Linked DNA regions of Homo sapiens: region 1 is linked to region 2. A link means that fine-mapping ties the variant in region 2 to the expression of a gene that starts in the linked region. Tissue or cell type: whole blood. Region 2 holds a variant in brackets; the other region holds the start of a gene. All regions are shown on one strand. Distances are from middle to middle.

Evidence for each region. PIP is the estimated chance that this variant, and not a neighbour inherited with it, causes the effect.
Region 1: it holds the start of SLC20A1, and the variant in region 2 is fine-mapped to the expression of SLC20A1 in whole blood (TOPMed, PIP above 0.99).

The regions. Positions count from the first base shown.
Region 1 is chr2:112,640,901-112,649,232 of GRCh38, reverse strand. It overlaps SLC20A1 (solute carrier family 20 member 1), which reads right to left and starts at 3,294. Exons shown (of 11, transcript NM_005415.5): 1 at 3,104-3,294; 2 at 2,071-2,670; 3 at 1,769-1,909; 4 at 1,495-1,580. The coding sequence starts at 2,404. SLC20A1-DT (SLC20A1 divergent transcript) reads left to right here and starts at 5,053. Exons shown (of 5, transcript NR_033871.1): 1 at 5,053-5,134; 2 at 5,218-5,274; 3 at 5,940-6,054; 4 at 7,044-7,150; 5 at 7,251-7,403. RefSeq lists silencers at 2,047-2,341, 2,803-3,632 and enhancers at 6,272-7,471, 8,067-8,332, 7,601-8,332.
Region 2 is chr2:112,616,846-112,625,177 of GRCh38, reverse strand. It overlaps the pseudogene RPS20P11. Among named protein-coding and RNA genes, the nearest start is that of SLC20A1-DT, 23 kb to the left of the region's middle. RefSeq lists an enhancer at 559-698. The variant A/G (reference allele first, on the strand shown) is at 3,880.

The DNA of each region.
Region 1 (8,332 bases), 24 kb before region 2:
ATCAGTTACCGTATCTAACTTCAGCCCTCAATAACACCGTGGGGGTATGCATTCCTCAAATGAGAGGTTCTGGGCACCTGAGAATCCCTCTTTGCACCTCAGAGCACCACCATTCCCCTTCCGGGGAATAAGTGTTTTGTGGAGGTGAAACACACAAACCCTCTCCAAAAACAAAATGATCTGCTACTCAATAATCAACACAGGGCCAGCATAAACCTTTACCAAGCAGGAATTCACAACAGGAGATCCTACTAATGCTTCTGACTCTCTGCTAAGTAGCAAGATATACAGTTCTAATGAAAACTCTAAAAAAAACAAAAAAATCTGGTCCATGACTACTGGTGAGCCTCTAATTTAAGCATCCCAGTATCATACACTACAGTTGTAGGGAGTGGGAAGGTAGATGCTTATCGTACCTGTCTGCTGAATAAAACAGTACCAAACTTAGGAGTCCATAAATATCAATGAACTGTTTACTCTCATATTATACCAGGCTAAAGATATTTCAAGTTTTCAAAGTGTTAAACTGCTATATTCTGCCAGATTCTGGCTATGGAAAACAGTGATTAGTGAATCACTTTACTAGTCATAGAATTTCTACAGAGAAGAGACAAATCTTTCCCTAGAGAAGCTTACAACTAGACCAGACAAGTGGGTCTGAATACATTCTTACCTGCTGGGATTTATGCTATCTCCCTCAGATTTCTACAGTTTAGGAACACTTTTAAGAACTTACAATGGATTGTTAAGAGCCATTCACCTTAGAAAAAGGACAACTTTGTTTCCTGAGAAAAATGCATTTATCCTCACTGTAACTCAGTCCTATGCCAACATAATCCCTTGTCAACATTTATTTTGCAGCCAGCAAGACTTCTTGATAAAAGAAATGCAAACTGGGTCACTTAAAAGGGATTTTCAAATGGACAGGAAATTAAATGGCTGCCTGAAGTTTTTTTGGGGGGCGGGCCAAAAACTACCTTTAACTGGTTCTTTTCAACTATTCTGAGAAATTGGAGTCAAGTCACTATGGGAGGCAGAGTCCTCATCTAGAAGCTTATAAACTGGTTATGATAATCAGCACGGCAGAGACCCATTTAACTGGCAGCTTAGTTAAAAAAGCCACAGGGGACACTGTCTTGAACTCCAAGTTTACGTATTATATTAGCCTGAATATAACAGTGGTTTAAACAAATAATGTGTATACAGCTACACAAAACCACGCAAAATAAATTTCCTTATTTTTTTGCTCCCAGTTTCTCCTACTTCTTGGCACATCATAGTATTCAATTTTTCCTTCCTGACTGCCCTCTTGAGTATTAAAAACTCGCTTTCAGAGAACTCCACAACATACAAGAAATGCACAGAACAAAGAGCTTTTTAAAATTTTCCAAGGCCGCATACCTATACACCAATCACATCTGCAAAAGTACCACTGGGTTTGAAATCGATTGGGTGTGCTCCATGAAAGGTCTTCATACGGGGGAGAAAGGTTACCTTATGGAGGATGAATGCACGAACCAGGAAGAATAAAATTCCAGACATAATTCCAGAAAGCAGTGGGGACACGAACCAAGACATCACTGGAATAGAACACATTAAGAAAAAATATCAAATAATGAAAATCAGAAACCAAAAACCACTTTAAATGTTTAAGAGTTCAAAATTCTTGGGTCTGTCCCTCGACGTTAGAACACATCCTCCCATACCTAATGCCATGGTAACATATGACGAAAACGAAAATTAAGAAGCCGTTTGGAATTAAACATACCAATTTTTATCAGTTCAGACCACTTGACACCCTCCTGCCCCTTTGCCACGAGGGAGAAACCAATAGTTGCACCAACAATACAATGGGTTCCAGAAATAGGGAGCTTCAAAAACGAAGCCACGAGTTGCCACACAGCAGAACCTGAAACATAGTAAAGTTTTATTAAGTAAATATCAAAATTCCATTATGTAAGTGGCACATTCAGAAAGGTTAATCGGAAAGGTTATGCACAAAAATGGAACCACCCATGATACAAATTTGCTCACCCACCACGAAGAGGACAAAACATAAAAAGAACTTACCAAACATAGCACTGACTGAGCCGGCCATCAGCAGCCCTTGAGTCGAGTTGTACATCTCCACGTCAATCAAGCCCTTCCGGATGGTTTCGCTCACTTTGGCCCCCAGTAAGACAGAGCCCACTGTTTCAAAGATGCTAGCTAGGATGCAGGCTTGCTTCAGGGTCACTACACCTGAGCCCACAGCTGTACCAAAAGAATTTGCTACATCATTGGCTCCCACGGAGAATGCCAAGACAAATGCAATAATGAAGCCCAGGATGAGCATCCATAGGTAGTCCACCAAAGGACCAGAAGCGGCGGTAGCAGCTGTAGTACTGGTAATCAGCGTTGCCATTCTCTGGAGTAGTGGTTGTTTAGTAAGAGAACTACTGAGCGCCTTTCAAGATGTGTAAACAGAATATGAGGTATCAAAAATGCTATAATAAATAATATATATTATATAAAATTAAATACTGTAAACTACGGCACAGAAACCGAGCTGGGGAGTTACTGCTATACGCTGCGTATGGGCATCTGTTGTCTGGGGTTTCTTTGGCTCAGGAGGGCTAAAAGCACGGAGCAGAATTCCATGGCGGAGAAGAGAAAGGACGCAAGTTCATCCTGCGGGGGAGGGGGGAAATAACAATAGCTGCGTGCCCCTGGGGGGCCAGTGGGGCACCCCGCTCTACCCACGCGCCCGGGGTCCCGCAATAGCCTCTGCCGGCTACTCCAGACCCCCATCCCCAGTAGGACGCGCGAGAAGGAGAGGCACGTGGCTCCGGGTCCTCCGCGGCCCGCGCGCGCCCAGCCCAGCCCCTGCGCTGCCAGCCCGCGCGCGCCCTCCGCGCGAAAATCGGAAAAGGGCCGTTCCCGCGCGCGCCGCCCGGGGACCGCCAAAAAGGCCCGCGGGCGGGCAGACGGGCGGAGTGGAGGCGGCCAGCGGCGAAGAGAGAAGCCAGCCGCGCCGCCCACGGCGTCCGCCTCCAGCGCCACGGCGTCCGCGCCCGGCCCCGGGGAGAAGAAAGAGCCTTTACGAGGCGGCGCCACTACTCACCAGGGAAAAGGGAGGGCGGAGCGGGAGACGAGGAGATCGAGGCGACAGCGGCTGGAGCCACGGGCACACGGCCCGGGTCGGCGGCACCGGGGACAGCTCAGCGGGACTCACGACCTTCCCAGGAAGCAGCCGCGGGGGTTTCAGCGGCCGAGAAGAAGAACCACGCAGAGAGCGCCGGCAGCCATCACTCCAGCGGAGCACCCCGCCGGCCCCTACTTATAGCCCGCGCAGCGACCCGCGTGACCCCGCCGCGCCTCGCGCCGGCCCCGAAGCCCCGCCCCCGGCATGACGCAGCCCTCCTCGGCCCGGCGTGCCCAGCCGGGTGAGCCCGACGGTGGCGCTCATTGGCCCGGCCCGCTTCGGCGGCCACGCCCCCAGCGGGGAGCCGGTCCACGTGGGGCGGGACAGCCCCCTCCCTGCGGCCTCGCCCTGGAGTCTCGGCACCGTCTGGCCCCGCCGGCTGATTACAGCCAGAGATCGAGGGGGACCTCGCTGTCCCCCTAGAGGCCGTCATGCGGGGTTACAGAGGCTGCGACCAAAGTCATTCCTAGCTCCTCTCTCGGGGCTCCGGAAAGCCGTCCGCGCCTCCAGCCGCACTTTCAGCGCACGCAGGACCTGCCGCGCCCGGTGGCCACACCCGTCCCTCTGCCGGGTGACGCTGCGGGAGATCTTGCGCCCTGGGGCTCCGGATCCAGTTCTGGCACGTTGTTGCACCTGTGACTTGTCCTTGGCCTGGCACTGTCCCTCGCCTGGGGGAAGCGGGGGGGTGGGGGGGGGATGCTCACGTGGTCGCTTTGCTCCCGCAGTCATGCACTTGGGTGAAAACAGACTGAAGAGTCACGGGAACCAGCTTGTCTCCCCAGTTATGGCGCAGAGCTGCAAGGATGGCTGTGGGTCATTAATTTCTCCGTGGCTGACCTGTGTTTGTAACGCCGCAGCTGTTGCGAGGGGGAAGGACACTGCTTCGGATTCAAATTCTGACTCCTTGCTGCAGTGTGTCACCTTGAGCCAGTCCCAGATCTCTGCGTTCTCACAATTGTAAAATGTTAACAGAGGCTGCCTACCTTGTGGCTGGAATTAAATGAATTAACGTGTGTGAATGTGACTAGAATTCAGTACATGTTCAGGAAAAGCTGATTTCCGCTTTGCTGTTACCGTGAATATTACTGTTTTAGGGTGTAGAAAAGGGTGGAAGGGGATGTTATTGCATCCTGGAAGCTTATCCTTTTGAGGTAAAGATTGATTTCTGGTCCCCTGCGTGGTATATAGTGTAGTTTTGACATTATTTAGATGTGTTATGCACATTTGGGTGTTGATTATATGGCTTACGATCAAGACTAACCAGTCATGCCGTGGGAGATTAAGGTCGTGGTCTCTTGTCAGGATTGTAGTGAGATTTAAAAATTCCAGCCAGAAATACCAGGCTTAGAATGCTCTGAAGCCCTCCCCACATTTTTGCCATCTCTAGCAGGAGGGCACTGCATAGCAGAAACAAAGACGTTGTAAATTGTTGCTGCCTGAGTCATTTATAGAGGCTTAAACAACCTGAATGTCCTCTGACCTACCTGTAACATTTGATGGAGTTGTATGAGTAACTTACAAAGCTGTAGGTCCCAAGGTCGGTCTGAAAAAGAAAGTTCATATCCGGGAGCACTGACCCCGTAGTGTAATCCTGGCACCTTAAAACGTACTGCTCCCTCCACCTTCACTTCAAGGTTATGAAAACATTGAGTAAAAGGGATGATCTGTTCAAAGTCCTTAGTGTTCTGCCAATTTAAAACAGTAATTTTCAAAGCAGTTATTTGCAAGGAAATTGCCTAGAACTTCTCCCAGTGTGCGGTTGTTTTGTGTGTTTGTGTGTGTGTTTTGTTTGTTTGTTTTCAGTCTGTCCACAGGCGTACTTTTATAGGTCTGTGATAGTAGGTAGCTCTTCAAGTTGGCAAACACCTGCTGGACAACCCCTGAGAGATTCATCTGAGTGAGAGAGCACTCTCCAGCCCCATCGGAGTGGGTTTGCAGGGAAATCATAAGGTAGAGATTCAAAGGAATTCCCTTGCGTTGCAAATGAAAACTGTATCTTCAGACTCTGATATAGTGTAATCCTTCCTTTTTAGGAAGAAATCCTTATCTTTCCAACACTGAGATGCTTCTGCCGAAGAGTAGAATGGGAGGTGAGGAATTGGGGTGGGCCCTCACTGCTTTGCCTCCGGATCAGTAGGGTACAGCCCTTGGAGACCAGGATCTTCCTTGGCTGGGACACCTTCGTCCTCCCCTAAGGGAGGAGAGGTAGGGATCTGCCTGTGGAAAGAAGTTACAGTGCCTTTTAAATAGAAATAGGAGGTAGGAGGACCGTCAGTTGTCAGTTCGTGCACAAATGGCATTGTTTCTGGCCTTATCTCTGAATGCTGAGGAAACAGGTCAGAGATCCTAAAGAGAATCTAATCTCTTAGAATCCAGGCATTGGCACAAACCCCCTCTAGCATCTTAGGGAGGTGGTTTGGTGTAGTGGTTAAACACATAGACTGTAAGACCAAACCACCTGCTCTGTCACTCACTAGTCCTGTGACCATAGGCAAATAAATTATCTGCCTCAGTTTCCTGATCTGTAAAGGGGTGAGATTGAGACTTCTAACTCACAGTGCTGTTGTGAGGACCAAATGAATGAATATATGTAAAGCCCTTGTAAAAGGGCTCTTATTCTCTTTGTTCAATAACTAGCTGAAGGCCTGTCATACATAGCCCATGTTTAAAATGAAGTATGTGTCAGATGTCAGGACCACCCTCTTCTCCCTGCCCTCTGATCCAAGCCCTTTCAAATTTCTCCCACGGCTCATAGTGAGGGGACACGCAAAACGGGCTGCTGCCGGAGGAAGAGGAACAGTGTTGTGGCTCATGCCATATGAATGGGCTCACTGGCCTGGCCCAGACCCTGACTGCCCACAGGATCTTTGGTGAGTCACTGTCACTGAGCCTGTGAGCCTAGGGTCCCTCTCCAACCTCACCCTCAGAGAGGACAGAACAAGATGACCTGTGGCATGCTGCAGAACACCATGTTGGGGACTGTGGGTTTAGAGTCCTCTTGGGGACATGTCCATCGTTCACTAATTCGGTGGAGTTGAGCTGCTGAGAGCTAGGAAAGCTACTCTCCCCCCGGATCCCAACCTAGCCCTGTGGAAGACCAGACAAAAGAAGGAAGCAATGACATTTCTGCACTTTTTAGTTCAGAGAGGCACAGTCAAGGAAATGCATTTGAGGTCACTGTTCGATGTACTTGAAGTACTCATCCTGGAAATAGTCTACTTGGAGTAGAGGGAGCTCAAGTGGGCATGGGAACGTTGTGGAACCAGACCAGGAACAAAGGCGGCTTCAGAGGCCGTCTGTGAGGACTTGCATGGGAGCAGGGGCGAGAACATCCAGGGAAGAGAAGGTAGGAGCCTTGGAGTAAAGGAGAACCAGCTCCTCTCCACCCACCAATGCCCTCCCCATCCCCAGATGAATGAGGTAATAATAATACCTGTAGCTGGACATGGTGGCTCAAGCTTGTAATCCCAGCATTTTGGGAGGCCAAGGCGGGTGGATCACCTGAGGACGGGAGTTCGAGACCAGCCTATCAACATGGAGAAACCCTGTCTCTACTAAAAATACAAAAATTAGTTGGGCACGGTGGTGCATGGCTGTAATCCCAGCTACTTGGGAGGCTGAGGCAGGAGAATCACTTGAACCCGGGAGGCGGAGATTGCGGTGAGCCAAGATCGTGCCATTGCACTCCAGCCTGGGCAACAAGAGCAAAACTCCATCTCAAAATAATAATAATAATAATATCTGTGATGCAGTTGAATGCTTACTGTGTGCCAGGTACTATTTCAGGTGCTCTGCATGGATTATCTCAGGTGATGCTCTCAATAAATCTCAGATGAGGTATTTTCCCCTTACTTTATAGACAGAGAAACGGAGGCACAGAGAAGGAAGCGGCAGTTAAAGCTGCGAAGAACCTAACAAATTTCAAGATTGTAAGTGCCTTTTCCCAGGATGCCAGCAAGTACTGAGGCAAGTATGATTGCCCTAGGTGCCAACTCTTATTTGCACTTAACACATTTACTTCCTCCTTCTTTCCCCCTCCTTTTTATTAACTCTGTTGCTTTTACAGCCTGTATTTTGAGCTGCATCAAACCCTGTTGGAATAAAAAAGGACATTTCTAGGAGATCAGTCTTCGAGATTGGCCCCAGTTTCCCCAGAGTAGGAAGAGGCAGGAAGCCAGAGCACATGTTCTCTCCAGAAATAAAGTTGTTGCAGTGGCCTAACCGTGTCTTAGAGTTACTGAAAACTCTGTTCTCTTGAGATTTCTCAAGAAAGGAAACCTATCTTGCAAGACAAAACCCACCTGTAGTCAATTCCTACAGGAAATAAATTCAAAATAATGTTTCAGGCAAGGGCCACATGTCACCACCACCACTTTCCCACCAGCTTTGAATGTGGCTGTCCTCTGTGTCTCCAGTCATTTCCCATTTCCCCCGGCATCTGTGGCTCTGTCCTGGCAGAGTCCAAGGGATGCTTGGGATCCAGGTGGGGGAAGGGTGCTTGAAAGCACCCAGACAGCCAAGCCCTGATATGGAGACTGGTTGAGACTGGTTGTGACTGGTCTCAGGCCAGCATCCCATGGCAAGAAAGCTGAGTTTTGGTTGTGCCAGACAAACTGGTGGGTCTATTTCTCCGCCAACACAGGAGTATGGGAGGTTGGCCCACCCTCTCTAGATTTTACATGCCTCTGTCCTGGCTGCACATGGCCTGGTCTCTTCCCTTTGGCTTTGAGTTCACACATGTGGGTGTGATATGGCATAGGAGCCAGGCAGAGGGAACAGAAGCACAGTTCTTAGAGCTTGAAATGGTCCAGGTGTCTCTGGAGCCAGCTTCTGGATAGCACAGCATCCTGAATACTTCTTTAGGAAGACGTCTCTGGTGACTTAAACTGGGACTTCTCGCTTTCCCCAAGGCCCAGTTTTCTCAGCTCTTAAACAGGGAAGAAAGGCAACTTGCTGGAAACTCAGGAACTTTGTGTAATGAAGATCCTACAGCAGAAAAGGAAGGGTCAGCTCGCTGCCCGCACAGTCCAGGATGTGTGGTTTTAGGCTGAGAAAGTGAGGGGGCAGCAGGACGTGAGTCATCCCCAAAGTCATCCCAGGAGGAGGTGGAGGGTAACAGCATCTGGCTTTGTATGGCTTCCCTAGCCT
Region 2 (8,332 bases):
GCTACTCGGGAGGCTGAGACAGGAGAATTGCTTGAACCCCGGAGGCAGAGGTTGCAGTGAGCCAAGATTGCGCCAGTGCACTCCAGCCTGGGTGACACAGCAAGACTCCATCTCAAAAAAAAAAAAAAAAAAAGGAAAAATTCAAAGAGCTATAGAGTCAGTAAAAAGTTTTAGTTGCCCCACCCATTCCTCCATTTCCCTTGCCCAGAGACAGTCTGCTGCCATTTTCTTGTGGATCCTTCTAGAAACAGTATCATGAACATAGTTATATGTATATAGGCATGCATTCAGTCAGTATTTGAACACCTGCTATGATTCAGTTACTGTTCTTCTATAAAACATATAAAAATCCTTGTTCTAGAGAACCTATATTCTAACAGGAGGCAAGGAGTCAGAGAATAAATGAGGTAAATCAAATATATGACATGTTAGATGTTGATACATGCAATGGAAAAAACTTACACAGGGTAGGTGAGTTGGGGTGTGGTCCCGAGTGCCTTTCCCCTGGGCTGCCTCTCCTCACCCTGAGAAACCTGGGGCCACACAGCTGGTGCAGCTCTCAATTCTGGTTTCTCACACGCAGGAACCCCACCCTGCCCTGGTGAGTCACGCCTTCACTTGGCTTCCTGATGTTGGAGGGCAGGCCTCCCTTACTGCCTCAAGGCTGTTCATCATCTTCAGCTTATATCCTGGGTCAACGTTGATGACTACTTTGCTGGCTTTAATTAAGTGGTCTATGGGCCAGGAGAATAAGGATCAACATCATCTGGGGACTTGTCAGAAATGCAAATTCTCAGGCCCCACCCCAATACTACTGGATCAGAAACTCTAGGTTGGGGTCCAGCAATCTGCGTGGTTTTTGTTTTAGTTGATGTTATTGTTTTAGAGACAGGGTCTTGCTAGGCCGCCCAGGCTGGAGTGCAGTGGCTATTCACAGGCACAATCATAGCATGCTGTAGCCTCAAACTCCAGGGCTCAAAAGATCCTTCTGCCTCAGCCTCCCAAGTAGCTAGGACTACAGGCGCACCCTACTGCGCCCAGCTGAGCAATCTGTGTTTTAAAAAGCCTTCCGGATAGCTCTGATGCATGATAAAGCTTTTATGAACCTCTGCTCTGCGGAAATGCCTTACCATCTCACATGCCTACCAGCTATGGTCATAAGCACACATTTTATATAATCGTACCAAGTTTTGAAAAATCTTTTCCAAGTTAAATCCTAGACAGGTGTACAAATTATATGTTAAGAAGTAACAGATAAATCTTACAGCCCAATTATTTGAAAATAAGAATCAAGTCATTTGAGTCTGGGCCTTCGAAATTTGACATGTAAGAATATTCATAGAAAATTGACTTAGTCCTAAATTCTTATCCCTAAATCCTGTTTTGTTTTGTTTTTTAATTTTTTTTTAAATTTTTTTTGGTTTTTTTTTTTTGAGTCAGAGTCTCGCTCTGTCGCCCAGGCTGGAGTGCAATGGCACAATCTCAGCTCACTGCAACCTCTGCCTCCCGGGTTCAAGCAATTCTCCTCGCACCTCAGCCTTTTGAGTAGCTGGGATTACAGGCGCCCGCCATCATGCCCGGCTAATTTTTGCATTTTTAGTAGAGATAGAGTTTCACCATATTGGCCAGGCTGGTCTCGAACTCCTGACCTCATGATCTGCCCACCTAGGCCTCCCCAAGTGCTGGGATTACAGGTGTGAACCACTGCACCCAGCCCCAAATCCTGTTATCTAAAAGATGACAAAATTTGAGCCTAGGCAACATATCAAGACCCCATCTCTACAAATTTTTTTTAAGAAATAGCCAGGTGGCTGGGCGTGGTGCCTCACCCTGTAATCCCAGTACTTTGGGAGGCAAAGGTGGGTGGATTACGAGGTCAGGAGTTCAAGACCAGCCTGACCAATATACTAAAAATACAAAAATTAGCTGAGCATGGTGGCACACGCCTGTAGTCCCAGCTGCTTGGGAGGTTGAGGCAGGAGAATCACTTGGACCTGGGAAGTGGAGGTTGCAGTGAGCCGAGATCAAGCCACCGCACTCCAGCCTGGGTGACAGAGCGAGACTCCGTCTCAAAAAAAAAAAAAAAAAAAAGAAAAGAAAAGAGAAAAGAAATAGTAAGGCATGGTGGTGCATGCTTATAGTCCCAGCTACTCAGAAAGCTGAGGCAGGAAAATCACTTGAGCCCAGAGGTTCAAGCCTTCAGTGAGCTATGACTGCCACTGCATTCCATCCTGGGCAGCAAAGAGAGTCTCTGTCTCTACTGAAAAAAAAAAAAAAAAAAAAGAAAAGAAAAGAAAAAAAAAAGAAAAGAAAAAATTTGGAAATAAATTAAAAGTGCATAAAAGTTATTAAAATACTGCTAAATAGTAATAGATAATTTATCTTCCTCTTTACACTCTGCAGAAGAAACGGTGAATGGTACTTATTAGGCAATGTGTAAAGCACTTGACGTGTGTAATCTTATCACATCTGCACAAATGACACACGATCCAAAGAACATTTTTGGCTCCAACTTACAGATGAGTAAGCAAGCTCAGGGAGGATCTTTCCTGATAGATATTTAGCAGCAGAGAGGGCCAGGAATTGGGTTCTGTAATCTCAGTCTGTGCTCATTTTACTGGAAGCCACATGTGTAGATACTGGTATTATCTGAGCCTAATCCCTGGAATCTCTATGGTCAATTGGAGAGAGGCTTAGGGAGGTCAGGGGATAGACAGGTCTTGGCCAGAGTCCACCTCACAGTGGGTCAGGTAGGATCCCAGGCACACCGTGTGGCTATTTTGCCAGCCTTGCTGTCCTTATCCGAGGAATGCGGTCTGTCATGGTGGGAATGCCCAGTTAGAATCCTTGAAAGGGCCACCTACAACCAAGATAATAACCTAAAAACAATTCTGTGGAGGAAGACGCGGTCGTAGGTGCTGAGGATTTCTCGTTCAGACGCTCCTGCTCCTGACTTACCGCTGTTCACTCTCGCCGAGGAACAAGTCGGTCAGGAAGCCGCGCAGCAGCCTTGGCTTTTAAGGATACCGGAAAACACCCGTGGAGCCGGAGGTGGCCATTCACCAAATTCGAATCACCCTAACAAGCCGCAATGTAAAATCCCTGGAAAAGGTGTGTGATGACTTAATCAGAGGCGCAAAGGAAAAGAATCTCAAAGTGAAAGGACCAGTTCGAATGCCTGCCAAGACTTTGAGAATCACTACAAGAAAAACTACTTGTGGTGAAGATTCTAAGACCTGGGATCATTTCCAGATGAGAATTCACAAGCGACTCATTGACTTGCACAGTCCTTCTGAGATTGTTAAGCAGATTACTTCCATCAGTATTGAGCCAGGAGTTGAGGTGGAAGTTACCATTGCAGATGCTTAAGTCAACTATTTTAATAAATTGATTACCAGTTGTTAAAAAAAAAACAATTCTGTGCCTGATGACATTGCAGAAATTAGTTCCATAAAGATTTGAAAGATGCAGGGCTACTGATTTCCATAACACCATTATTACCTCACCTATTTGGTCAGTGCAAGAGGCAAATGTTGGTGGAGAATGAAGGTGGATTAACACAAACATATTCATGGGTTTGCTTATCCCGCCCACAGCACTTCCTCCAGCACCATATATTCATAGATTTACAAATGCTTATTCAATTGCAATGATGTCTTACATACAAATTATTTGTCCATGGGCATGTTTTCATGATAAAAGATGTTAAGCTATGGGCCATGGCTATGGAGTTCCTGCTTACTACATGCCACATCTCCTAGCAGCAGGCAGCTTCACAGAAGGTAGTGGAAAGACCTGCCGCAGCCTTAATTATGGTGGCAGTGTGGGCTCCACATCTACGACTTTACAATGTGTAGTGAACCTTTGGATACCTCTCAG[A/G]ATTTCCCATCAGGACCTAAGCAGTGATTCCATGAGCTGCTAGAGTATGGACTGCTAATGATTCACAGGTGAAACCTCTTCCAAGAATGTCCTTGGCCCACAGGAACAGTCTTACCCAAGGTCATGCACCCTTCCCAGTGTAGGGACACACAGCCTGTTCTAAGGATATGTAATACTTCTGTCCATAATGGCAAGTGATGTTGCCTTTGGAAAAATGCTACAGTGAGAACAGCATTAGTGGGATGAGAGCACATCCAGGACCCACTGGGCTCCCTGAGCCCAGCCATGTGGTGTGGGTGAAGCAGTACAGGCGGGGAAAAGACCACTGCACTGAGGAAAAGAGCTGGCAGGGTCCAGCGTGCTTAAGAACAGTGTCCAGGCCAGGCACAGTGGCTCATGCCTGTAATCGCAGCACTTTGGGAGGCCGAGGCGGGCAGATCACGAGGTCAAGAGATCAAGATCATCCTGGGCCACATGGTGAAACCTCATCTCTATTAAAAATACAAAAATTAGCTGGGCATTGTGGCGTGTGCCTGTAGTCCCAGCTACTCGGGAGGCTGAGGCAGGAGAATCGCTTGAACCCGGGAGGTGGAGGTTGCAGTGAGCCAAGATCAAGTCCCTGCACTCCAGCCTGGCATCAGAGTGAGACTCCATCTTAAAAAAAAAAAAAAAAAAGCAGTGTCCGGCAGACTGTACAGACTGCACTCTGCTCAGGCCAGTTAGCTCTAATGATCCTTTTCAGCTACAAGTGCCAGTGACTGGCTACTCTGTAGAATGGGGTCATCAGGCATCAAAAGAGTCACATAATGGCATTACAAGATGGCCAGACATCCCTTGATCCCAGAGGAACATTTTGTGCCAGCACCTCCAGCTTCATGGAGGCATTGATACACCAAGTCCCTGAGGATGCCTGAAGCTGGTTCACAGATGGAGCCCGCTAAGTTACAGGCTGGCGGATTGTTCTTGGCCCTTGCAGCTGTGCAGCCACAGGGGAAAACAAAAGCTGTTTAAAATTTTGCACACAAAAAAAAGGTACTACCCAGTGGACAGAGTTGGGGACAGTGGTGGTTTTCCTGAAAAACCCCTCCAAAATGCTCCTTGCTGCTTTTTCATTGATTTAGAGACGGTAGCCAATGGGCTGGCAGTGCGGGCCTGTGCCTGGAAGCAAGACTAAATGATCAAGTCTCAATCCCTATGGCAGTGAACATTATGGTATCAGACTTTTTTTTTTTTTTCTGAGATGGAGTCTCCCTCTGTTGCCCAGGCTGGAGTGCAGTGGTACGATCTCAGCTCACTGCAGCCTCCATTTCCCAGGTTCAAGTGATTCTGTTGCCTCAGCCTCCCAAGTAACTGGGATTATAGGCTTGCACCACCGTGCCTGGCTAATTTTTTTTTTTTTTTGTATTTTTAGTAGAGACGGGGTTTTGCCATGTTGACCAGGCTGGTCTTGAACTCCTGACCTCAGGTGATCCACCATGCCTGGCTATTTTTTTTTTTTTTTATTAGAGATGAGATTTTTGCCATGTTGACCAGGCTGGTTTCGAACTCCTGACCTCAAGTGATCCACCGCCTCAGCCTCCCATGCTGGGATTACAGGCATGAGCCACCGCACCCAGCCTCAGATTTTATTAATACTACACCACTGCCCTCTGTTTTATGGATGTGGATGTCCATAGAAATAGCATGAGTGGAATTCAAAACCCAATCAGACTTGTGCCTTCCAGGTAAGGACAACTGAATACATCATCACAGAGGCCACGACATTCTGTCTACAGTGCAGGACTGGGACCCAAAGCAAAGATGAATGACTCCAGCACAGGAAGCCACCGAAGTCTGGTAAATGAGCCTGTCAGTCAAGGGGCAAAGAAAACTCCAGGGCACATATAAACTCAGGACACCAGATTCTGGCCAGTCCTGGCAAATAGGCTACATAACCTCCTAAATGCTCCACTTGGGGATGCAATTAAGCATTTCCTACAGTAGGCACCTTTCTGGGTATGGCATGGCAATGTAGGTCCTTACCACAGATAGGAGGTAGATGTAACATAAATTTAGGGACTCGCAGATGACCTGTGTTACATACTGAGATTCCCTGAATGTATCTCATCAAATGATGCGCATTTATAGTCAAGAGTACCCAACACTGGCCAACCACCTTGGACATTGCCAGGACATCTCAGGACCCTCATCACCCACAGGCAATAGATGCCATAAAAGGATGGAATGAGGCTGGGCGCCATGGCCCACACCTGTATCCCCAATACTTTGGGAGGCTGAGGCAGGTGGATCGCTTGAGACCAGCCTGGGCAACATGGTGAAACTCTGTCTCTACATAAAATACAAAAAATTATCCGGGTGTGGTGGTACACCCCTGTGGTCTCAGCTACTGGGAAGGCTGAGGTGAGAGGATCACCTGGGCCCAGGAGGTTGAGGCTGCAGGGTAAGCCGTGATTGAACCACTGCATTCCAGCCTGGGCGACAGAATGGGACCCGGTGTCAAAAAAAAAAAAAAAAAAAAAAAAGAGAGAGAGAGAGATGGATGCTTAAAGGAGAAGCTAAAAAGGGTACATAGAGAACCAAAGCTCAATTCTCAGTAGAGTACACACTTAAAACAGACAATATGGATTCTAAATGTGCCAATACCCCAAAAGGGAACTTCCTTTTTAAATAGAATCTGTGTGAGTTTGAGGAGTCGGGGAGGAGGCCCAGACTGTCTGTAAGAGACCCAAACCAACACAATATACTCTCCTTCTTCATTCCTCCTTTCCCTCCCACGCTCACCCCTGGGGAAACCAAACTATGCTGCTTTTTTCTTTTTTTTTTTTTTTTGAGACGGAATCTCACTCTGTCGCCAGGCTGGAGTGCAGTGGCGCAATCTCAGCTCACTGCAACCTCCGCCTCCTGGGTTCAAGCAATTCTCCTGCCTCAGCCTCCTGAGTAGCTGAGACTACAGGCGCCCACCACCACGCCCGGCTAATTTTTGTATTTTTAGTAGAGACGGGGTTTCACCATATCGGCCGGGCTGGTCACAAACTCCTGACCTCAGGTGATCCACCCACCTTGGCCTCCCAAAGTGCTGGTATTACAGGTGTGAGCCACAGCGCCCAGCATTTTTTTTTTTTTTTTTTTGACACGGGGTCTTGCTCTGTCGCCCAGGCTGGAGTGCAGTGGCACAATCTTGGCTCACTGCAACCTCCGCCTTCCTGGTTCTAGAGATTCTCCTGCCTCAGCCTCCGAGTAGCTGGGACTGTAGCTGGGACTATAGGCGTTTGCCACCATACCCGGCTAAATTTTAGGTATTTTTGGTAGAGACGGGGTTTCTCCATGTTAGCCAGGATGGTCTTGATCTCCTGACCTCGTGATCCACCTGCCTCGGCCTCCCAAAATGCTGGGAATACAGGTATAAGCCACCATGCCCAGCCTAACCTGATGCTGCTTTTACTGTCCAGTTATGCTTCCTGGATCTGGGCAATTATAGATACTGATGATATTGATCATGAGTATGAAGTGACGACTCCCAAAGTGGTCCCGGCATGGCACACTATGTGAGGGAGTGGAAGATGTTCTAGATGGCACAAGTTGCAAACACACACACGCACACACACACAAAGCTGCACTGCTTAGGAATAAACTCAGCCATATGGTGTGTATTAGACTGAGTGAGGACTGCAGGGACTAGCTATACCTATCTCATGGCCATGAAAAAACATCAAAAGCCCAGGATGGTGGTGAAGGAACACTCTAGATCTCTCTTGGCTCTTGCCTGCAGAACACCTGGCTTGGCCTGTCATCTCAGAATCTTTTTGTCATGTTGTCCAGGCTATCACCACTGCCCTCAGTCTAACTACTACTCCCATTCTATCGAGAGACCTTAAATCGAGGACCTCCAACTTTAGAAGTGGAGAACTTCTGCCCAAGACATCAGAAAAAAGATAATTTTCTGGACACTTAGGTTTCTTTCCTGCTTTCTCCTATCCTATTATTGCTGGTATCTCTGGTCCCCTTCCACTACCTAAAAAAAATAACAAAACTTCCTTGTGTTGCTCAATCTGTCTTACCCCTCCTGACCCTGCTGACAAACTTTTAATAGCTCCTCCTGCCTGGGCTCGATGGCTCATGCCTGTAATTCTAGCACTTTGGGAGGCTGAGGCAGGTCGATCACTTGAGATCAGGGGTTCGAGACCAGCCTGGCCAACATGGTGAAACCCCGCCTCTACCAAAAATATGAAAAATTAATCAGATATGGTGACATGTGCCTGTAATCCCAGCTACTTAGGAGGCTGAGGCAGGAGAATTGCTTGAACTCAGGAGGCGGAGGTTGCAGTGAGCCTAGTTCGTGCCAAAGCACTCCGCCTGGGGGATAGAGCAAGACTTCATCTCAAAAAAAAAAAAAAATCTCCTCCTTTGAGTACTTTGGAAGTATTCTTCCAGGAACTATTCCTTCTTTCAGGCT